Linked DNA regions of Homo sapiens: regions 1, 3 and 4 are each linked to region 2. The links come from fine-mapping of genetic effects on gene expression. A gene starts in region 2. Each other region holds a variant in brackets. All regions are shown on one strand. Distances are from middle to middle.

Region 1 (6,365 bases), 43 kb before region 2:
TTGTGCTGGGCACTGCTGGGTGAAAAATTCACAGAAGAAAGGTCTGAAATTGTTCGAATCAGCTAAGATGATTGAGAAATGGGAAACAGATCCCTGGGATGCAGCTAAAGGCACTGAGCCCTCCCAGCCCAGGAGGCTGGGGGTGGCAGGGAGAGGGTAATTATACTCCTACTTTTGAAATTCCCATGCTGGAGGCTGGGACAAGCCTAGAGTAATGTTTCTTGGCTTCAGGTGATCTGAGGTTACATGCCTGCCCCTTTCTGAGCCTTTTCTAGGCTTGAGTTTGAGGTCTGGCTCTGGCACAAATAGTGCTATGTGACCCTTCTTAATTAACTGCCTCCCTCTGATCCTGTTGCCTGTGAAGAGGGGGTTGAGCCAGGATAGGAGGTTTGGCTTGCTTTAGTTTGAGATGTGTTGTTTGGCCTGGAGAACTTGGAGCTCTGTCTTCATATACTGAAGTGATGGCTGGTTCCACGTCCCCTCCCCCTGGGCCCCTCACCTGCCATCTGTGACATAGCAGGACCCCAGCCTACCCCCTTCCAAGGTCCTTCCCCTCTGCCTTATTACAGCGGGGCATGGAGGGGAGTCGGCCTCATGCCAACCCACACTCAGCCTGGCCTCTAGGCCTGCTGGACCTGCACAGGGAGTTTCTCCCAAGCCAGACTCCAAGGTGCCCACAAAGGACACAAGGGCTCACTGAACCCCTCATTCTGCCCCCAGAGTACTGTTTCCCAACCCAGATTCTTCTGAGCCCACCAACAAAGCTCACCCAGGTGAGATGCCCCAAGCTCAGCTGCTCCAACTGACCCTTTCAGGGGAGCAGTTTGAAGCTGGGACGCAGCATAAAGGGGATCATGGCAGAGAAGAGCTGACTGGGAGGACATCAAGTCTGTGAGGCCCTGTCTTCCCTGCGATGGGGAAGAGCATGGAGCCCTGGATTCGTGCAACCACCTTTCTGTCTAGTCCTGGGAGTGGGGGCTGCCCTGCTTCATGGGCTCAGCTGTGTGAGCACCAAGGAGTGATGGGTGACATAATGACCGTGGGGGCGCAGGTTGGGTCCAGGGCGTGGTCTGCAGGCAGGCCTGTCATCGATTTTGCCCATTTCCAGTTTCTCTGCTCTGTGACTTGCAGTGATTAAGGCAGGAGAGCTGCCCAGGACTGGGGCCCCCCTTCCGAAAGTGCTTTGGGGGTTCTATTCACTGAGCTGTGTCATTACCAGGAACTGAAATAGCCCAAGTCTAATGGCTAAGTCCCATCTCTCTCTCTTTCGTAAAAGGAAATGATTCCCCTGATGACCGGATTGCTTTCCCTCACAGCCTCCCACAATCCTGGCCTCACTTGTGGTTCATTTCTCCCCTCAGTGGGCATTTCCTGGAAGACTCTATCCTGTGTATCTGATGGCTGTTCTGTTCCTGCCTGTTCTGTTCTTTTACTGTCTCCTCTGGGTGAACTTGTTGATCTCACACAAGGTTTAAAAATTCATGACTCGCGGGGAAGATGAAATGAGATGAGGCAGAAAATAAGAAGCCATTCCCAATCCTCAGATGGAATGAAGATATTCTTGGCAGAGATGAGCAAGGAACCAGGACAGGGGTCAAGGGGGTGGGTTTCCAATGCACAGAGATCTGGGTTCAATTCTGCAGCCCTGCCTTTATGAGGTATGTGCCCTTGGACAACTTCCTTAACTTCTCCGAGCCTGTTTCCTTGGCTGTATGATGAGGTCACAGTAGAACTTTAAGAGACTTAGGCTTGGAATACAGAAAAGACAATATTTACATGCTTAGCACACAGCCTGGCATAGAGAAAGCACTCAAGAAATGTTTATGATTATCATTGCATTTTCCTGCCTTCCTTGCAGTTAGATAAGGGCCACATGGCTGGTTCTGTGGGTGGAATTGAGCAGTGCCACTCCCAGTCTGAGTAGTTAGAGGTGGGTGTGAGTTTTCCATTCTCTGTGGGTAGAAATCACACTTGGGATGGAAGAACCAAAAGATGGAAGCAGGCTGGATCTCTGAGTCACTGCATGGAGTCAGCTGCCCTGGAGCTGCTTTTCCTGCAGCACACTGGGATGTGATAGAGAGATAAACCTTGCTGCTTTAAGCCTCTAAGGTTTGGGGTTTTGTTTGTTACTGCGGCATAAGCAAAGAAATGAAGATTTGAGAACTTCTTAGGAAATAAATTAGGATGTGATTCTGTATTAGTCAGCATTCTCTAGCAAAACAGAATGTGCACACACACACATACACGAGAGACAGAGAGAGACAGATTTATTATACAGAATTGGCTCTGCCTGGGCCAGTGATGCCTGTAATCCCAGCACTTTGGGAAGCTGAAGTGGAGGGTTGCTTGAGCTCAGGAGTTCAAGACCAGCCTGAGCAACACAGTGAAACTCCGTCTCTACAAAAAAAAAATTTTTTTTAATTAGCTGGGCATGGTAGCATGTGCCTGTAGTCCCAGCTACTTGGGAGGCTGAGGTGGGAGGATCACTCAAGCCCTGGAGGTTGAGGCTGCAGTGAGCCATAATCGTGCCATTGCAGTCCAGCCTGGGCAACAGAGTAAGACCC[C/T]ATCTCAAAAAAAAAAAAAAAAAAAGGAATTGGCCCACGTGACTATGAAGGCTGGCAAGTCCCAAGATCTTCAGGATGAGTTGGTTGGCAAGCTGACGACCCAAGAGAGCTGATGGCTTAGTTCCAGAGTAAGTCCAAAGGCTTGAGAACTGAGAGAGCTGATGTAGTTCTTGTCTCAAGGCCAGCAGGCTTGAGACTCAGGAAGAGCCAGTGTTCCCAGGCGAATCTGAAGGCAGGATAAAAGCCTGTGTCTCAGTTTGAAGGCTACCAGGCAGAAAGAATTGCCTTTCACTTGCGAGAGTGTAAGTCTTTTTGTTGTATTCAAACCTTGAGCTGATTACATGAAGCCCACCCCGGTTAGGGGGACAGACTGCTTTACTCAGTTTACCAATTTAAATGCCAATTTCATCCAAAAACATCCTCATAGAAACACCCAGAAGAATACTCGATCACATATCCAGGTACCCAGTCACCTAGACAAATTGAGACACAAATTAACTGTCACATTCAGGCATATGAAACTCACTGGAAGCAGACAGATGAGAGGCCTACTGAAATTTTGAGAAAACAGTAATGCCCAAAAAAAATGGGGCTTTTTTTGTTTGGTTTTTGTTTTTTTTTTTTTTTTTTTAGAGAAAGGGTCTTGCTCTGTCACCCAGGCTGGAGTGCAGTGGCGCAATCATAGCTCACTGTGACCTCAACCTCCTGGACTCAAGAGATTCTCCCGCCTCAGCCTCAAGTCGCTGGAACTACAGGCATGAGCCACCGCCCCTGGCCATGGGCCTGGTCTTTAAAAAGATTGTGACTATTTGAAACTTAAAACTTCCATGGGCAGGAAGTGGGCTGAGAAATCCACACAACCCTCAAGGAGGGTGGAACACACAATCCCTACTTCAGATATGATCGAGTAAAGTAAGGTAGGGGAAAAAGAGCTTTAAATGAGGGAGCCAAGCGGCCCTGAGAGCAGCGATGAAGGTAGTTCCTTCCAGAAACTTCCCTACCCCTCCACAAGGTCTGCCCAGAAGGCCTCAGCTCCCACTTCCCGGGGTATCCTTACTGTGGTTATCCTGTCCCTGCCCCTACTCCACCTTTGTGTATGGCGTGGGGGTGGGAAGGGAGAAGCAGGTAACCTGCCTTTTTTTTTTTTTTTTTGAGATAGAGTCTTGCTCTGTCACCCAGACTGGAGTGCAGTGGCATGATCTCAGCTCACTGCAACCTCTGCCTCCCAGGCTAAAATGATTCTTGTGCCTCAGCCTCGCGAGTAGCTGGGATTACAGGTATGCGCCAGCACACCTGGCTAAATTTTGTATTTTTTAGTAGAGATGGGGTTTCTCCATGTTGGCCAGGCTGGTCTCAAACTCCTGTCCTCAAGTGATCCACCTGCCTCGGCCTCCCAAAGTGCTAGGATTACAGGTGTGAGCCACTGTGCCCAGCAGGTAACTTTTAAAATTTATTTTTATTTTTTATTTATTTTTTTTTTGAGACGGAGTCTCGCTCTGTCGCCCAGGCTGGAGTGCAGTGGCACAATTTTGGCTCACTGCAACATCTGCTTCCTGCGTTCAAGCGATTCTCCTGCCTCAGCCTCCTGAGTAGCTGGGATTACAGGCACGTGCCACCACACCTGGCTAATTTTTTTTTTTGTATATTTAGTAGAGACAGGGTTTCACTGTGTTGGCCAGGCTGGTCTCGAACTCCTGACCTTAGGTGATCCACCCCCTTGGCTTCCTAAAGTGCTGGGATCACAGGCGTGAGCCACCGCACCCGGCCCCCAACAGGTAACTTTTTAAAATTCCTACATCTCTGGACCAAAAAAGGCCACCTCTAGACCTCATAAAGAGACCCTAGGGCAGCCCATGAGATCCTGGCTGGAGGCAGGAGCTGCACATCACTCTGGGTTTTCTCTCTTGGAAAGCAGTTTCATGTTGTGTGTTGTGTGTAGGAAGAAGAGCAAATCCAATGCGGTACATGGAGACCAGCAGAACAGACTGTGGTAGAGACTTCAGGCTCAGCCAGATCTGGTTCTCTTCTCCTTCCTGGGTACCAGGGAGAACCACACCTCCCAGGCTCCTTGCAGTTCCACAGGAACATGTGACTAGCTCCGGCCCAAGGGCTCGGAGAAGTGTCACGTGTTGCTTCCAGGTTGCAAGTGAATGTGAGTTATCCGCACTTTCTCATTCCCTTTAGTAGCAACCGTGGAGACCACATGTTGAGATGGCAGAGCGTGGATCCCTGGGCTGCCACAGAAAGGAGCTGTCCTGAACAGCTGCCCAGTTCACATTGGACTTGGCACAAATGAGAAATAAGGGTTGCGTTGTTAAGTCGCTGAGATTTGGGGGTTTATTTATTATCATAGTCTAGCCTAACGTGACTAGTACACCTTTCAATTAGATAGTGGCTAACTATATCATGCATAGGAGGGAAAGGAAACATCTAGAAAGTATGGTAAGTTTGTGGTTTTAAGAGAATCCTGTGGCTGGGTGCAGTGGCTCAGGCCTATAATCCCGGCAATTTGGGAGGCTGAGGTGGGAGAATTGCTTGAGGCCAGGAGTTTGAGACCACCCTGGCCAACATAGCAAGACCCTGTCTCAAATTTAAAATTTAAAAAAGTTAATTAAAAAAACAAAAAAAAAAAGCCCGGGCACAGTGGCTCATGCCTGTAATCCCAGCACTTTGGGAGGCCAAGGCAGGTGGATCACAAGGTCAGGAGTTCAAGACCATCCTGGCCAACATGGTGAAACCCCGTCTCTACTAAAAATACAAAAATTAGCCAGGCACGGTGGCAGGCGCCTGTAATCCCAGCTACTCGGGAGGTTGAGGCAGGACAATCGCTTGAACCCGGGGGGCAGAGGTTGCAGTAAGCCGAGATCGTGCCACTGCACTCCAGCCTGGGCGACAGAGTGAGACTCCGCCTCAATAAATAAATTAACCAATTAAAAAAAAAAAAGGCCAGGTACAGTGGCTCACGCCTGTAATCCCAGCACTTCAGAAGACCGAAGTGGGTGGATTGCTTGAGTCCATGTTTGAGACCAGCCTGGGCAACATGGTGAACAAAAAATTAGCTGGGCGTGGTGGCACATGCCTGTGGTTCCAGCTACTTGGGAGGCTGAGGTGGGAGAATCGCCTGAGCCTGGAAGGTTGAGGCTACAGTGAACCAAGATCTCGCCACTGCACTCCAGCCTGGGCAACAGAGTGAGACCCTGTCTCAAAAAAAAAAAAAAAAAAAAGAGAATCTCATAAAACACTCAAAACATTTTCCACTAACTTGTTGAGTCTCATTAACAACTTCCATTTGCAACAGATATCAATGGTCTTGGATCCAGCACAGGCAGCTTCATAAAGAGTCTCTACCTTCATTTATTTCATCAGTCAATTAGTCATTCAATGAACATTTAATGAGCACCAACTATGTGCCAGGCACTGTGCTAAAACACAGAACAGAATGGAACGTAATGTATGTATGGTCCTTATCCCCCATGGAACTAGTAGTAGAGAGAGTTACACATAATCTCTCTGGGCTGGGCTTGGTGGCTGGCACCTATAATCCCAGCACTTTGGGAGGCTGAGGCAGGCGGATTGCCTGAACTCAGGAATTCAAGACCAGCCGGGGCAACATGGAGAAAGCCGATCTCTACCAAAAAAAAAAAATAGCCAGGTGTGGTGGTGTGCGCCTATGGTCCCAGCTACTTGGGAGGCTGAGGTGGTAGGATTGCTTGAGCCTGGGAGATAGAGGTTGCAGTGAGCTGAGACTGTAGCACTACACACCAACCTAGGTGACAGAGTGAGACCCCATCTCAAAAAAAA
Region 2 (6,365 bases):
CTGTAACTGTGGTATGTAAGTCACTTTTAATTTTGGTATAGAAATTAAAGACAAAGGTATAAAAACAACTATAAAAATTTGTTAATGGAGACAATATAAAAAGATGTAATTTGTGACATCCACAACATACAAGGGGGTCATAAAAGAGCAGAGTTTTTGTATGCAATGGAAATTAAGTTATCAAAACAGATTGTTATGTTTTATATAAGCCACATGGTAACCACAAAGAAATACCTGTGTAAGACACACAAGGAAATGAGAAATTCGTTTCTCAAAGTATGTCACTACAAAAAAAAAAAAGTCAACGAAATATAAAGGATGACAAGAGTGGAAAAGAGGAGCAAAAAGGTTGTAAGACAGAGAACAGTTTACAAAACGGCAACAGCAAGCACAGTTGGCCCTCCGTATCTGTGGGTTCCACACCTGTAAATTCAACCAACTGCACACTCAACCAACTGTGGATCAAAAATATTCAAAAGAAATAAATAATACAACAATTAAAAAACAACTAAGATATAGTATAACAAGCATATACATAGCCTTGACATTGTTTTCGGTATTATAAGTAATCTAGAAATAATTTAAAGGATATGGAAGTATGTGTGTAGATTATATGCAAATACTATGCCATTTTATATAAGAGACTGAGCTTCTGCAGAGTTTGATATCCACAGCGGATCCTACAACAGTCATCCCATGGATACAAAGGGATGATTGTACTTCCCTATTTTATTTATTTTTTGAGACAAGGTCTCACTTCCAATGCCCAGGCTGGAGTGCTGTTGCAAAATCAAGGCTCACCGCAGCCTTGACTTCTCAGACGCACTCCCGCCTCAGCCTCTCAAGTAGCTGGGACTACAGGTGTGTACTACCACACCTGACTAATTTTTTTTAGTAGAAAAGGGGTTTTGCCATGTTGCCCAGGCTGGTCTCGAACTCCAGGACTCACACGATCCACCCACCTCGGCCACTATTTACTTTAGGTATAAATGGATTAAACTCCAGGCCTGGCGCGGTGGCTCACGCCTGTAATCCCAGCACTTTGGGAGGCTGAGGCGGGCAGATCACGAGGTCAGGAGATCGAGACCATCCTGGCTAACACGGTGAAATCTCGTCTCTACTAAAAATACAAAAAATTAGCCAGGCGTGGTGGGGGGCGCCTGTAGTCCCAGCTACTCCTAAACCAGGAGATTGGCGTGAACCCAGGAGGTGGAGCTTGCAGTGAGTCGAGATCATGCCACTGCACTCCAACCTGGGCGACAGAGCGAGACTCTGTCTCAAGAAAATAACATAACATAACATAACCTCCCCAACCAAAAGACATGAAGTGGCTGAATATAATGAATTAAAAAAAAGATTCAACTATATGCCGCACAAGAGACATTTTATTAAAATCTGGAAATCAATGGCAAAAGAAAAGGTGGAAAATTCACAAATATGTGGAAATTAAACAACACACTCTTGAACAATCAATGAGTCAAAGAAGACATCAAAAGGAAAATTAGAAAATATCTTGAGACACGCCGGGAATGGTGGATCACACCAGTAATCCCAGCACTTTTTGGAAAGCTGAGGCAGGAGGATCACTTGAGGCCAGGAGTTTGAGACCAGCCTGGGCAACATAGTGAGAACCTGTCTCTACGAAAAAAAGAAAAAAGAAGGGAAACAACAGGCCGGGCGCGGTGGCTCACGCCTGTAATCTCAGCACTTTGGGAGGCCGAGAAGGACGGATCACCTTAAGTCTGGAGTTCGAGACCTGCCTGGCCAACAAGGTGAAACCCCATCTCTACAAAAATACAAAAATTAGCCAGGCATGATGGCGATGCCTGTAATCCCAGCTACCTGGGAGGCTGAGGCGGAAGAATCGCTTGAACCCGGTAGGTGGAGGTTGCAGTGAGCCAAGTTCGTGCCATTGCACTCCAGCCTGGGCGACAAGAGCAAAACTCCGTCTCAAAAAAAAAAAAGGAAAACAACAAAAAACAAACAAAAAGGAAATATCCTGAGACAAACTAAAACCCAACATATACAAAATTATGAGATGCGACAAAAGCTGTACTAAGAAGGAAGTTTATAGTGTAAACGCCTACATCAAAAAAGAATAAAGATCGAGTCCCTGGGTCTGCAGGAAAAAAAAAAAAGAATAAAGATAGGGATGGGGGTAGGAGGGGAAGATAGAGGCAAAGTTAGTTACTTTATAACAGCAGGCTAGGAAAAAAGAATAATAAGTTCCAGTGTTCTATTACATATTAGAGTGACTACAGCTAATAACACTGTACTGTATATGTCAAGATGCTAGAAAAAGATCTTGAAAAGTTATTACCGTAAATAAATGATAAAGATTTGAGGTGATGGACATGCTAACTACGCTGATTTGATTATTCGATGTACACATGTATTAAAACATTATACTGTACCCCCATAAACACGTACAATTATATGTCAATTATAAACAAACAAAAAGCTGAAGATACTATGTGAAACCACGAAAAGCATTAAAGACTAAAGAACGGGGAGAAGGGGAGCCCAGGGAAGTTGGGCTAATCCCGCCTGGGACGTAGGTGAGAGGCGAATTGGGTCTTGGACGATGACTGATCGTTTAAGCAGATATTTCCAGACCGGCACACAGTAGGCTCACCAAAGAATGGAAGCGACCTTTATTTCCTGAGTTGCAGGATCGGCCTCTCCCTGGGCCTGCCCTTGCCCTGCGCTATCGGGCAGACGAACTCTCCCCAAGATAGAGACCACAGAGGAAGACAAAGGGTAATCCCCGCTGCCGCCCGCCCCGGACGCTAGAACGTTCTCTCTCCTCACCAGCGACGAAGTCGAGAACACTGTAGACACCGCCATTTTCCCCACCTGCACCGGAAACCGGCTGCGCGGGCACTTCCGGGAACTCCTAGCCGCCCGGCCAGCCGACCACGGCAGCCACGGAGGAGCTGAGCCGGAAGGTGCGTCCCTGCGCATGCCGGAAGTGGCGGTGCGTGTGACGCCGGCGGCGGGGGGGGCGGGACCTGGGGCGGAGAGCGGTTCGCGCGCTTCGGGCCTAGTCCGGACTCGCCGCCGCCGCCGCCATATTCCCGGTAACGGGGGCGCGCGGTCGGGGGCAGGTTGGGCCGGAAGAGGGGTCCGGGCCGGCACTGAGGCGGGAAGGGGGTCGGTTGAGATGGGACGGCCGGAGTCTGCGGGCGGAGGGAGTCGCGGGCCTTTTGAGGGAGGAGGCAGAGCGCGCCGGGCCGGGTTTGTCGGGAGGGAGCGGGGCGGGCCTAGCTGGGGGCGAAGAGTAGGCCTGGGTTGGGGGCAGAGGCGGCTGGAGCTGCTTGACACCTGGGGGCTCTGGCCGGAGCCGCCTTGGGGGCTAGGCAGGTGCAGCGGATAGGGGCTGCGGGCTTCGCCGCGGTCATTCTTCGCAACGCCGTCCTAGGGCCACTAGGACCCGAGGGTGGGACTTTTCCGTCGCGCCATAGGCAGCTGCGGCGCAGACGCGGCGCTACCCGGGTCGGGCCCGAGGGTGATGGGCAGCGACCCCCGGCGGCCTGGGAGAGCGGTGGGCGGCGCGAGGCCGGGGGCGGGGCGGAGCGGGTGGGGCCGAGCTGGGGCCGCCAGGATGCTGCGTCTCTGGAGATGGGAGGTTAGCAATCATTACCCTCTTCCCAGCCCAGGACCCTCGTGCCTTCTAATTCTTGCATTTTTCCGAATCCCGCAGTGGCATCTTCCTTACTTTGTCCATCCTCCGGACTCGCGATCTTCCTTCCGGAGCCATGTCAGAAGGAGTGGACTTGATTGATATATATGCTGACGAGGAGTTCAACCAGGTGAGGTGTCATCAGGAGCTTTGGGATTTTCCTTGATCATCTGAGGAATCATTTTCAGCAAACTGGCAGTGGTTTCAAGCTGTACCAGTCCTAGGCTTGAACACGCGTCTATCCGGTCTAAAATTTTTCTCCTGCAGAAACTTTAAAGACTACACTCCATTCCTCTTTATGTTAATTTGAAGCTCCAGGCTTAATTTTAAAGGCTTTGATTTAAGAGCAAATAAAAAGCAGGTGTAATAGAATGGTGAATCAACCTGTGGAATTTACTCCCCAGGAAGCCAAAGGTGGGTGTCAGACTAACCACACTTAAAAATCAAAAGTACATTTGCTACGGTATTCATGAGGACAGTGTTGATACCGGTTCCTTTACATTCTCAACCTGCAGCTGGAGAAGTGTAGTCCCCTCCATCGTGACAGTGCAAAAGCAAAGTAGAAAAGATGACTTTAACATTTAGTTTCAACTCCATTCCAATTAAGTTTTACTTCCTTTTATAAGTAGGTTGACTCCAGTCATGAGAAGTCCACAGGCATTTTGGTATAATAAATTGTATTGGTTACCTTTAGTCTTTCTAGAGGGAATAAAAGAGTAAAGACGTTAGACAAACCAGTTAGAAAACTGATAATAGACCCATGCACATACCCTCAGTTGGATTTGTTTTTATTGTACCAGGGAACATTATACAGAAATTTATCTAGAGCTGGGCAAGGTGGCTCTTGACTGTAATCTCAGCTGCTCTGGAGCCTGAGATGGGAAGATTACTTAAGACCAGAAGTTCAATACCAGCCAGGGCAACATACCAAGACCCAGTCTACAAAAATGTAAAAAAAAACAACAACGAGATATGGTGGCTTGTGCCTGTAGTCCCATCTACTCTGGAGAGTGAGGCAAGAGGTACTCCCTGAGCCCAGGAATTCAAGGCTGCAGTGAGCCATGATTGGGCCGCTGCACTCTATCCTGGGCAACAGAACAAGACCCTGACTCTTAAAAACACAAGAAAAATTCTCTCAAAGAAATAATCTTCCATGCAGTTAAGTTTTTCAGTCTTGAGGTCAATTCTCAAGAATGTTCCAAAATTTCTATTGAAAACGTACTAATATCTTGCCTGGGTTATTTTCAGCACCATTCTATGTAAGTAAGCTGGCTCTTCCCATTTGCATCTTCCAGTGGGTACACATAAGGACCTGGTAAGAGCATGTATTGAATGGGTTAGAAAGGGAAAGTTCCCTGGTTTGACCCTGACTTTGATATGAGGCAACAGAAGAGGCGGATACATGCCATTTATTTTTCACTTGGCATAAGTTTACATGAAAATCTATTTTTTGATGTATTATGGTTTTATAACATGGAAATTATAAACCATACACAAAAGCAGAATAATGTAATGACCTTGTACCCATTATACAGCTTCACCAATTATACTTTTTAATGGCAGGTTTCTTGTCTCTGTTGTGGTTAACTGTGGTCCTTTAAATATAGCTGCTGATTATCTTAAATAGATGAATTTTCCTTTTTTTTTTTTTTTTTTCTTGAGACAGAGTCTCTCTCTGTCACCCAGGCTGGAGTGCAGTGGCGCGATCTCGGCTCACTGCAACCTCTGCCTCCCAGGTTAAAGTGATTCTCCTGCCTCAGCCTCCTGAGTAGCTGGGACTACAGGCGTGGGTCACCTCACCTGGCTAATTTTTGTAATTTTAGTAGAGACGGGGTTTCACCATGTTGGCCAGGTTGGTCTCGAATGCCTGACCTTGTGATCCGCCCGCCTTAGCCTCCCAAAGTTGGGATTACAGGCGTGAGCCACCGTGCATGGCGAAAAAATTTTTTAGTTTTAAATAAGTCCAATAATTATGGATAAAAGAGAAAAGTTCTAGATGTTAATTTAGTTACAAAATCATTGTTTTCCTGAGTTTTCCATATTCATTTGAATCAGACTTTTAATACCTTAAAAAAAAAAACACACAGTCTTGCTGTGTTGCCTAGGCTGGTCTCTCAACTCCTGAGCTCAAGCGATTCTCCCACTTCAGCCTCCCAAACTGTTGGGATTATAGGTGTGAGCCACTCTGCCCAGTTCAGACTTTTTGCAGATTATGTTTTTCCCCCACCAAGATAACAAGAGCGGTCCTTAGTTCTTCTCTTTTTTTTTTTTTTTTTTTTTTTTTTGAGACAGAGTCTCTCTTTGTCGCCAGGCTGGAGAGCAGTGGCACCATCTTGGCTCGCTGCAACCTCCTTTTCCCAGGTTCAAATGATTCTCCTGCCTCAGCCTCCTGAGTAGATGGGACTACAGGCGCGCGCACCGCCATGCCCAGCTAATTTTTGTATTTTTAGTAGAGACGGGGTTTCACCATGTTGGCCAGGATGGTCTCAATCTCTTGACCTTGTGATCTGCCCACCTCGGCCTCCCAAAGTGCTGGGATTACAGGCGTGAGCCGCCGTACCCAGCCACCTTTGTTATTAATGAAAAGCTTTTCCCCTTCTAATTTCTTATCTGTGGATTGATAATAGTGCCATTCATTTCACTTTGAGAAATACGCAGAACTCATTGTCCAGTGGTCACTGCT
Region 3 (4,000 bases), 120 kb after region 2:
ACAGGCAGTAGTTTGAAAGTCACATTCCTGGAGCGTTGATTTTTTTAACTGGTTGCACATTATCATTAAATGGAAAGCTGTTAAAAATCTCAGCCTAGGCTCACCCAGACCAATGAAATAAGAGTATCTTGTGGATGGGACCAGGAATCAGAATTGTCTGTCTCTCCAGGTGATGTTTAGCATGGAGTCAAAGCTGGTGTAATCCTGCCTTGTTTTTCTTCCTCTGTGGAGTTGCCTCATAGAATCTTTGCCTTCCTTGAGTCTCCTCAGTCTAAACCCAGACCCTTCTTTCCAGCCTGGCGCTGGCCAACAATAGCACCCTCACCATTGGCACCATCGATGAGATCCAGAAGCTGCACATTCGCACAGTTCCCCTCTATGAGTCTCCAAGGTGAGGCCCAGGGTGGGAGAGTGGGAAGTGGGGGTTGGTGTAGGGTGCTTCTGACTTTCTAAGTGACACTGTTGTTCTGTACTTGTTCTGCAGGAAGATCTGCTACCAGGAAGTGTCCCAGTGTTTCGGGGTCCTCTCCAGCCGCATTGAAGTCCAAGACACGAGTGGGGGCACGACAGCCTTGAGGCCCAGCGCTAGCACCCAGGTAAGGGCAGTGGACAAAGAAAGATGACCTTAGAGCAGGGGCCAGCAAGCTTTCTGTACAGGCCAGGTAGTGAAGGCTTTCGGCTTTGCAGGCAGTGTGGTCTCAGTTACCACTGACTGTTCAACTTTGCCATCGTAGCCTGAAAGCAGCTGTAGGCAACAGGTGAGCATAGCTGGCTTCTATAAAAGTTTATTTTTAAAAAACAGTTCCTACTTGGTGGCCTTGCAGCATCTGTCACCATCAGTTTGGGTCCTTTGTAGAGTGGTCGAATAGAGGAGGAACATGGGGTTTGGAGTCCGACAGAACGGGCTTCCAGGTTTGTTTGTTTGTTTTTTTTTTAAGACAGAAACCAGCTTTTCAAAAGTGCCTACTGGGTTTATGTTATGTTATGTTATGTTATGTTTTATGTTATGTTTTATGTTATGTTATGTGTTATGTTTGTTATGTTATGTTATGTTATGTGTTATGTTATGTTATGTTATGTTATGTTATGTTATGTTATGTTATGTTATGTTATGTTATGTTTGTTATTGAGACGGAGTCTCACCCTGTCGTCCAGGCTGGAGTGCAGTGGCACGATCTCGGCTCACTGCAACCTCTACCTCCCAGGTTCAAGCGATTCTCCTGGCCCAGCCTCCTGAGTAGTTGGGATTACAGGCGCGTGCCACCATGCCCAGCTAATTTTTGTATTTTTAGTACAGATGGGGTTTCACTGTGTTGGCCAGCCTGGTCTCGAACTCTTGCCCTTGTGATCTGCCTGCCTCGGCCTCCCGAAGTGCTGGAATTACAAGCGTGAGCCACTGTGCCTGGCCTGGCTTCCAGGTTTATTGCTAGCTGTGTGACCTTGGGAAAGCCTAAACTTCAGTTTTCTTATCTGCAGAATGAGGCAGATAACAGTCTGGAGCTACA[C/T]ATACTAGGCTCAGTGGTGATACCAGCTGGTCATTTTCTTCCATGTATTCTCTGCCTTTCATGTTTCCACATATCTGCGATAGGACCTCCCTCCGTAGTCCAGAGTTGAAGTCTTCATGGCTTCTGTTTTTATTTGAAGTGCCCCCCTCCTCTTCCCATTGAGGGTAGTGGAGTCTGTCCCCATTAGGTCACCTGAGTTCCTTTTTAGCTGTGCTTGATTGACTTGAAGCATCACTGTTTTGTCTTTAATGACCCTTAGATTTTTACTGTTTGGGATTGATGTTTCAACTACATGCCTCCTCTGAAACACTCTCCTCAGGCTCCTTGAGCTGCCAGCCATCAGAGTTCTTGGCTAGCTGCAGCCTTTGTGTCCTGATCTGACGGGTCCCTTCACAATGATGTCTCAGCACTTCTTCTGTGTTTGAGAAGGATGATGTGCATTCTCTCTGTTTGCAGGCTCTGTCCAGCAGTGTAAGCTCCAGCAAGCTGTTCTCCAGCAGCACTGCTCCTCATGAGACCTCCTTTGGAGAAGAGGTGGAGGTGCACAACCTACTTATCATTGACCAACACACCTTTGAAGGTGCACATGAGCTCTTTCGATAATTTTTATCTACGCCCTCCCTAATCCAGGCTGTTCTGGGCTCTGGTACCTGCAAAGCCTGACAGATGTGGCAGACTGTCCTAGGAGGAGCAGAAAGGAGGGGTGGGAATTCTGTGAGATGGCAGTGAGTTTGGAGGGCTGGGCATCCTCTCCTTAGCTTAGGCTGGTGGGGGATGGATAATCTGATGAGACAGGGACAGCAGGTGGTACACGCTTTGTCACTGCCTAAGCCACAGGCCTCAGAAATACGGGGTTATGTGTGCGTGCAGATATGGGTAACCTGTCATCACGTAGTCATCTCTCTACTCTCTAGTGCTTCATGCCCACCAGTTTCTGCAGAATGAATATGCCCTCAGTCTGGTTTCCTGCAAGCTGGGCAAAGACCCCAACACTTACTTCATTGTGGGCACAGCAATGGTGTATCCTGAAGAGGCAGAGCCCAAGCAGGGTCGCATTGTGGTCTTTCAGTATTCGGATGGTAAGTGGGCGCAGTCTCCAGTTTCTGAGGGATGTGAAATGCTGAGAAAGTCAGCAGGCCATTGTGAGGTTTCAGAGAGCCTCAGTTAAGCAGTAGAAGAAGTTGGGTTCATTGCTGTAAAGAGCTATTCTCTTCTTTATTTGATTGAATTTTGGAGCATGTGAACAGTACACAGTAAAATTTAGCTTACATTTCTTTCTTTGCTACTCTTTGAAAGGCCAAAAGAACAAAAGGGAGGGGTGGGAGAAGTGAACGATGGGTAAGGGAATCTAGTGACAACAGGTATAAAAATTCAGAATCTTAGGTTTGTTTTCCACTTGGTTGCTCAGGCATTTAGGTGCTCTTTCCAGCTTCAACTCTGTGTTTATATTTTAATATCTTTTCTCGTTACACCCACCCAAGATGGCTCTAAAGACTATCAGCCCGGAAATCTCAGATCAGATAGCTGAAATGGGATCTGGTTTCCATCTTGAGAGAGAGATCTAGAGTTTCAGGGCGAGGGGGCAGATCCTAGATACCAACTGGATTTCTCTGCACATTATCTTGGGGCTCATACTTCACGTGGTCATTAACTCCAGTAGATACTGAGTCTGTGTTGTTTTTTTAGATGAGTGGTTTTGGGGGGCAAGAATTTGTACCACAGGGGCAACCAGAGGATTCTTTTGATGAGGTAAAGTGTGGGCTCATAGAGACTCAAACATATTTTTTCCACCCCCAGGAAAACTACAGACTGTGGCTGAAAAGGAAGTGAAAGGGGCCGTGTACTCTATGGTGGAATTTAACGGGAAGCTGTTAGCCAGCATCAATAGCACGGTGAGGCCTGGACCACTTGGTACTTACTTTAGGCTGCCCATCATTGTCTGCAGAATGTGTCTCTCTTAGGTTGTCTGGGGCCACGTGTGTGTCAGATCTGAAGGAGAACAAAGTAGCGGGTGTGGAGGATAGAGCTCTGAGTTGAGAATCTCGGAAACTGAGGTTGAACCACGCATTAGACTAGGTTACGTGAACCCCCATGTGTTTCAGATCCTGAGTGCTGTGGGACTTGAGAAACGAGTGAGACCTATGGTCCCTGCACGTAGGATGTTCCATGCCAAAAGAAAATGAGCCAAATCAGAATATCCTGAGTGCATTCCTGAAAGCTAGTCCTTTGAAATATTCCACTGCTTATGCCATGACCCTACCTCCTCCCTTGCTAAAAAGTTTTTTTCCATCTTTATTGAGGTATAGTTGACAAAAATTTTGTATATCGAAAATGGACAACTTGATGTTTTGGAGTAGGGAGATAGCAGCAAACAAAATGGACAATGAGCTGCCCTTTTGGAGTTTATGAGCAAATAAAGTACATAGTACGTGAAATGGTGAGAAGTAAAAGGGGTGCAGGACTGGAGGAATGCCAGGATGAATGTGGGAAGTGGG
Region 4 (6,365 bases), 71 kb before region 2:
GCCTGACCAACATGGTGAAACTCTGTCTCTACTAAAAGTACAAAAATTAGCCAGGGTGGTGGTGGGTGCCTGTAATCCCAGCTACTTGGGAGGCTGAGGCAGGAGAATTGCTTGAACCCGGGAGGCAGAGGTTGCAGTGAGCTGAGATTGCCCGTTGCACTCCAGCCTGGGCAACAGATCTGGACTCTGTCTAAAAAAAAAAAACAAAAAAACATCTGAGTGGCCAAAGGAGGTCTCATTGAGACCATGGCATTGAGCAAAGATGGCAGGGTACACTCCTGGCAGTGGAGATGGCAGTGCCAAGCCCCTAGGGCAAGAGTATGCCTGGGACTTTGGGAGCAGCAAGGGGCCCAGCCCAGGGAGCAAGGGGAAGCATGGTGGTCCAGGAGATCAGAGACAGAAAGTAAGGACTGGGCAGGCCGAGGAGGGCCCCTGTCCTTCATGAGGACTTTGGCTTTGACTCTAGGTGACAGGTCATCCGGGAATTTTGCACAGAGGACACATGTTTTAACAGGATCCCTTTGGCTATGGCTGCAGGATATGGGGGGGTATGTGTGTGTGTGTGCACGCACACGTGTGTGCATGCGTGTACGTGTGTGCGTGCATGCGTGCATGCATGTGTATGTGTGTGTGTTGGGGAAAGGGTTTTGTGCAACTTTAACCTCTCTCCTCTTGGTTCTCTCCCACAGGATAATGCTAGCTGTCGTTTACTCAGCACATACAGGTTGTCAAATTTATTCTTCACAACAGCTCTGCCGAGCAGGTACTATACTCTCCACCACCCTCTGGCTCTACAGATGAAGAAACAGATTAGATTCAGAGAGGTTAAGTAGTTTGAGTTTCAGTGTGGTTAAACAGCCACTGCCAAGCTACAAGGTCACACAGCCGGTAAGGGGCGGAGCCAGGATTCAAACCCAGTCCATCTTATTGCAAAGCCCGGGCTTTGTCGACGATGTCTCATTGACTCTGTGGTCTAGGAGAAATTAGAGAAACCACCCTGGGTGCTCAAACGCTCACCTCCATCCTGCAAACAGCAAAAATATTTCTAGGGGTGCCCTGCTTGGAGGTTTTGATGTTGTCAGAGAGGACAAGAGTGGCTATGAGCCACACCACTTCCCCTTTCCCATCCCAGGCCCCAGGGCTCATATGTTTGCCTAACTAGGGGGTATCCTGAAATCCACAGGGCAAGCCTAGGAACCCCAAATCAGGTCCCACAAGACAGAACAAAGAGGTCCCCAGGTCCTGGGTCATCCTAGGCCTGTGATCTGGGCTCAGGGCTTATATGATACCAAATTCCAGGCAGTCTCTGGCCCACCGTTAGACTAGAGCCCATCAGTGATAGCCAAACTCACCAGGCTGGCTCAGCCACTGCCAACCTACTCCTCCCATCCTGCCTAAGAAACCAGAGCCCAGGCGTGGCCTGGGGATCATGTTTACCTGGAACCCTAGCTCTGTGAGTTACCTGCCTGATCTGTTGAAAGCTGAGAGTCCTCCCAGGTCCCCCTCAGAGACACCAGAGCTGGAGCAACAGAGGCCACAGGAGTGTGAGGAGGGGGAGAAGCTGACTGGTTCCCAAGGCCACATTCCAGAATGTTGTGGATGGAACTCTGACCACCCCAGTGGGTTCTGTTAGGCCATCAAGCTACAAAGTGGACTTGATGACTCCTTCCTCCTGGGAGGAATGCTGGGGTCATGGCTGGCAGTCGCTCTTTATGTTAATACCTTCTTGGATCTGTGGCCAAATGCAAATCAGATCATCTGCTCCAAGAATACAGATCCAGGTCCCAACCAAGACTACCAAGGACTTGTCTGGCCTGGTCCCCCTGGGGCAGAGGCTACTGAGAGTGACCAACTTCTGTTTTTTCCCCCTCTTCTTCCTGAGCCCTCAGTAAAACTACTTTTCCTAGCTGAGAGGGTAAGACCCTGGGATGACTGCTGGGCTAATGGATGTGGGCAGAAGTGAAACATACCACATGAATGCACAATCCTCCATGCTCCATTTATCTACTGTGATGTTAAAGATGGAAAGGATCCTGGATCCCAGAGTCACCACTTGGAGATGAGCTAACCTGAAGAGCTTCTTTTCACCCCAGGACCTTTGGACATGCCAGTCCCTCTGCTTGGAATTCTCTTCTTCCCACTCTGCTTGGTTCACACTACTCATCCTTAAGGTCTCAGCTGAAACCTCCTGATATGGTTTGGATGTTTGTCCCCTTCAAATCTCATGTTGAAATGTAATCCCTGGCTGGGCGCGGTGGTTCACGTCTGTAATTCCAGCACTATGGGATGCCAAGGCAGGCGGATCACCTGAAGTCAGGAGTTCGAGACCAGCCTGGCCAACATGGTGAAACCCCGTCTCTACTAAAAACACAAAAATTAGCCAGGCGTGATGGTGCCCACTTGTAATCCCAGCTACTCGGGAGGCTGAGGCAGGAGAATTGCTTGAACCCGGGAGGTGGAGGTTGCAGTGAGCCAAGATCACCCCATTGCACTCCATCCAGCCTGGGCAACAAGAGCAAAACTCCATCTCAAAAAAAAAGAAAAAGAAATGTAACGGCCAATGTGGGTCATGGAGCCTAGTGGAGGTATTGGGGTCATGGAGGCAGATCCCTCATGAATGGCTTAGCACTGTCCCCTTGGTGATGAGTGAATTCTTGCTCAGTTCACTCAAGATCTGGTTGTTAAGGAGTCTGGGACCTTCCCTCCTATCTCTTGCTCCCTCTCTCACCAAGTGATAACGCTACTCCCTTTTACCTTCTGCCATGACTGTAAACTCCCTGAAGCCCTCACCAGATGCAGATATGGCACCATGCTTCCAGTGCAGCCTATAGAACCATGAGTCAAAATAAACAGCTTTTCTTTTCTTTTTCTTTTTTCTTTTTTTTTTTTTTTTTTGAGAAAGTTTCTCTCCTGTTGCCCAGGCTAGAGTACAATGGAGCAGTCTAGGCTCACTGCAACCTC[C/T]GCCTCCTAGGTTCAAGCAATTCTCCTGCCTCAGCCGCCTGAGTAGCTGGGACTGCAGGTGTGTGCCACCATGCCCAGCTAATTTTTGCATTTTTAGTAGAGATGGGGTTTCACCATGTTGACCAGGCTGGTCTCAAACTCCTGACCTCAGGTGATCCACCCTTCTCGGCCTTCCAGAGTGCTGGGATTACAGGAGTGAGCCAATATGCCCATCTTGTCTTTTCTTTATAAACCACCCAGCCTCAGGTATTTCTTTATAGCAACGCAAGAACAGACTAACACACTTCCCTTCCAGGATCTTTCAGAGCACGTCAAGCCCCTGTTATAGATTCTTGAGCTCCCACATTTCTCCTTCAAAGTAATTATTCCAATCACACTAAATAAATAATAACTGTGAATTATTTGCTTGAAGTCTGTTTCCGATGGACTAGGATGTGAGCTCCATGAAGACCAGATCAGAGGGCCAGGCGCGGTGGCTCACGCCTGTAATCCCAGCACTTTGGGAGGCCAAGGCGGGTGGATCATAAGGTCAGGAGTTCGAAACCAGCCTGGCCAACATGGTGAAACCCCGTCTCTACTAAAAATACAAAAATTAGTCAGCCTTGGTGGTGTGCACCTGTAATCCCAGCTACTCGGGAGGCTGAGGCAGGAGAATCGCTTGAACCCAGGAGGTGGAGGTTGCAGTGAGCTGAGATTGTGCCATTGCACTCCAGCCTGGGTGACAGAGTGAGACTCTGTCTCAAAAAAAAAGGAAAAAAAAAACAGATCAGTGCCAAGTGCCAGTGCTGTGTGGAGCCATTATTGGAACCTTCGAGCAAAGGAAAAATCAGTAACACGAATCTCATCTTCGTTTAAAATTTTGATTTTTTTTCATCATGGATTTTTGGCAATAATTTTTACTTTTACAATGATTGCATCAAACTATTACTTAATTATGGAGGTGGGTTTTTTTGGCACTTCTTTAAATATGGTGTCTAGAGCAAGTGCCTTGCCCCCCCTCACCCTAGTCTCAGCTCTGGATCGGGCAAAATCACCCTTTCTCAAAGGATTATCACAAAGCGTCAGTGACAGTGTATGGGAGCTGAATGCTGTCATTTTGAGATACTAACTTATTCCACTGTAGACAATTTCCTTATATCCATTGACTTGCATTCATATGCTAAGTTGGTTTCCTATATTCCCTGCTCTCCAGGGAAACTCAGAACAAAGAGTCAAATCCTTGGCTTTGAGTTGCAAAAGAGGCTTTGAAACCCAGAGCTGAGACTATACCCTTACAACAACCAGTTTTGAAAGAGAAATCTTTTGTGTAGGTCCAAAAAAGCTTGGCTTTGAACTTCGAGAGCAGAGAGCTGATGCCATAAGCCCTGGAGAGGGGAAGGATGCGTCATCGCAGAAGATAGCACCCAAAAGGAGATTAAGGTTCAACCGGCAGGTGGGAGAGAACGGGCAAGCAGCGCCCGGAAACACGGATGCCAGCCCAAAAACCAGTCGTCAGCCCCATCTGGGCAGAGCCTGGGGGTGGCATGAGAAAAAGTATATACCCCCAGGTATCCTGAGGGGGGCACCAGGGCAGGTGGGACCCACCTGCGCTTCCCTTACCAGGTGTGGCCTGAGGATGTAACAGGCCTCCCACAAGTCACTCTACCTGTATGGAGAGGCCTCAGTAGAGTAGACATAGAGGTGAACTCACAAGAGCAGGCATCCAGAAGTTTCCACACCTGCAAGACAGACATGGGTGTAGCCGAGAGATTAGGCTGGGGAAGTCCACATCTTTGCTAAATCCAGTTGTTACTGATAGACCAAGATACACTTTTTTTTTTTTTTTTTTTTTTGGTCACCCAGGCTAGAGAGCAATGGCGCAATCTCGGCTCACTGCAACCTCCACCTCCCGGCTTCAAGTATTCTCCTGCCTGGGCCTCCCAAGTAGCTAGGATTACAGGTGTGTGCCACCATGTCCGGCTAATTTTTGTATTTTTAGTAGAGACAGGGTTTTGCCATGTTGGCCAGGTTGGTCTCAAACTCCTGACCTTAGGTGATCCACCCGCCTCTGCCATCTGAAGTGCTGGGATTACAGGTGTGAGCCACCACGCCCGGCCCCAAGATACACTTTTGAGGTCTTGAGTATTGCTTATGAAGTCCATACTCACATATACCTGCTCTGTCTGGCTATACAAGTCATGCCATGTACAATGGAGCCGTATCTGATTCCTTTTGACACCAGGATCCTATACTGGAGGTAAGTATCTCGAGGAACAGCACTTTTGATCCATGTCCCATAAAGGGTCTTCGCAGGCCAACAGCAAACTCCCTAGGTGTGTAAAAGCACCGAGAGCACCCCGCTTACAGAAGGTACCCCACAAATGCCCTTCTTAGTGATGGTAACTCACGTGGGAAGGACATTTGATTTCTTTGGGCCTCCCAGCATCTGTAGCCCCTGGCTATGTTGGAGAATCCACCTGCCTTACAAAACAGAGCCCACTCTCCTCCCAAGGCAGCTGAAAACGCTGGGAGCTCACTTTCCCGGCATCCCTTGCAAGCGAGGTGGAAGCCTGTGACCCGGAAGTCGCCCCCAAGTACACCCACGTCAGATTCTGAATAGGAAATGAGAACTGCTGAGCAGAAGGGATCACTCAGATCCCTCCTGAGGGCGGTGTGAGGAGCGGCAGCAGGGGCTGTGTCCCAGGAGCAGCGGTGGGGAGGCCTGGGGTCTTTGTGGTCCCAGGGCCATGGGGCGATTTTCTTTGTGCTTCCTGGCTGGGTGGGCTCTAAGTTTTTTGGTTTTTTTTTTTCTTTTTCTTTTTTGAGATGGAGTTTTGCTCTTGTTGCCCAGGCTGGAGTGCAATGGCGCCATCTCGGCTCACCTCAACCTCCACCTCCTGGGTTCAAGCGATTCTCCTGCCTCAGCCTCCTGAGTAGCTGGGATTACAGGCGCCTGCTACCACGGACCCGGCTAATTTTTGTATTTTTAGTAGAGACGGGGTTTCTCCATGTTGGTCAGGCTGGCTCGGAGTCCTGATCTCAGGTGATCCGCCGGCCTCGGCCTTCCAAAGTGCTGGGAGTACAGGCGTGAGCCACCACGACCGGCCGGGCTCTAAGTTTTATTCTCAGGTCCACCTGAAGATTCTGTGAGTGACCAAGTCCTTTTAAGAAATTCCTTTTCTGCTTAAATTAGCCAGCTGTGGTTTTTGTTGCTTGTGATGAACTCTGACTGACAGCCTCCATCGTCAGACCTCATCAGCCTGTGACCACTCAGGGAGTCGCGTGATCATTCTCCCTCTGCCCCTGCTTGCACTGTCCTCCCAGAAGCCCCACACTGTCAAATGCTGTTCTGTGCTCAGGAGAAGCTTTGCCCATGTTCTTCAATGCCAGCCCACCGCCCCCAGTGCCAGAGCCCACCAGGAGAG

Which allele goes with the higher level. Alleles are on the strand shown, and positions count from the first base shown. SD is a standard deviation of normalised expression in the study named. Not every link is listed here.
For the expression in thyroid of the gene that starts at base 2,870 in region 2, T is the low allele of the variant in region 4 and C is the other (moderate effect, 0.64 SD a copy in GTEx).

What was found. PIP is the estimated chance that this variant, and not a neighbour inherited with it, causes the effect. A credible set is the group of variants that fine-mapping cannot tell apart.
Region 1: its variant is the best candidate, but not a certain one, in a credible set for the expression of SDHAF2 in whole blood (TOPMed, PIP 0.69).
Region 3: its variant is the best candidate, but not a certain one, in a credible set for the expression of SDHAF2 in whole blood (TOPMed, PIP 0.89).
Region 4: its variant is the best candidate, but not a certain one, in a credible set for the expression of SDHAF2 in thyroid (GTEx, PIP 0.54).

The regions. Positions count from the first base shown.
Region 1 is chr11:61,469,417-61,475,781 of GRCh38, reverse strand. No RefSeq gene overlaps it. Among named protein-coding and RNA genes, the nearest start is that of SAXO4, 8.5 kb to the left of the region's middle. The variant C/T (reference allele first, on the strand shown) is at 2,565.
Region 2 is chr11:61,426,629-61,432,993 of GRCh38, reverse strand. It overlaps SDHAF2 (succinate dehydrogenase complex assembly factor 2), which reads right to left and starts at 2,870. Exons shown (of 4, transcript NM_017841.4): 1 at 2,812-2,870. The coding sequence starts at 2,847. It overlaps CPSF7 (cleavage and polyadenylation specific factor 7), which reads left to right and starts at 3,019. Exons shown (of 10, transcript NM_001142565.3): 1 at 3,019-3,080; 2 at 3,704-3,812. The coding sequence starts at 3,759. RefSeq lists enhancers at 2,740-2,799, 3,156-3,804 and silencers at 2,746-3,081, 2,940-3,109, 3,220-3,649.
Region 3 is chr11:61,308,380-61,312,379 of GRCh38, reverse strand. It overlaps DDB1 (damage specific DNA binding protein 1), which reads left to right. Exons shown (of 27, transcript NM_001923.5): 17 at 296-391; 18 at 485-596; 19 at 1,962-2,085; 20 at 2,420-2,584; 21 at 3,303-3,397. Among named protein-coding and RNA genes, the nearest start is that of VWCE, 15 kb to the right of the region's middle. The variant C/T (reference allele first, on the strand shown) is at 1,506.
Region 4 is chr11:61,498,077-61,504,441 of GRCh38, reverse strand. It overlaps LOC105369329 (a long non-coding RNA gene), which reads right to left. Exons shown (of 3, transcript NR_188527.1): 2 at 4,607-4,679. Among named protein-coding and RNA genes, the nearest start is that of MIR4488, 7.3 kb to the left of the region's middle. RefSeq lists a silencer at 5,079-5,279. The variant C/T (reference allele first, on the strand shown) is at 2,962.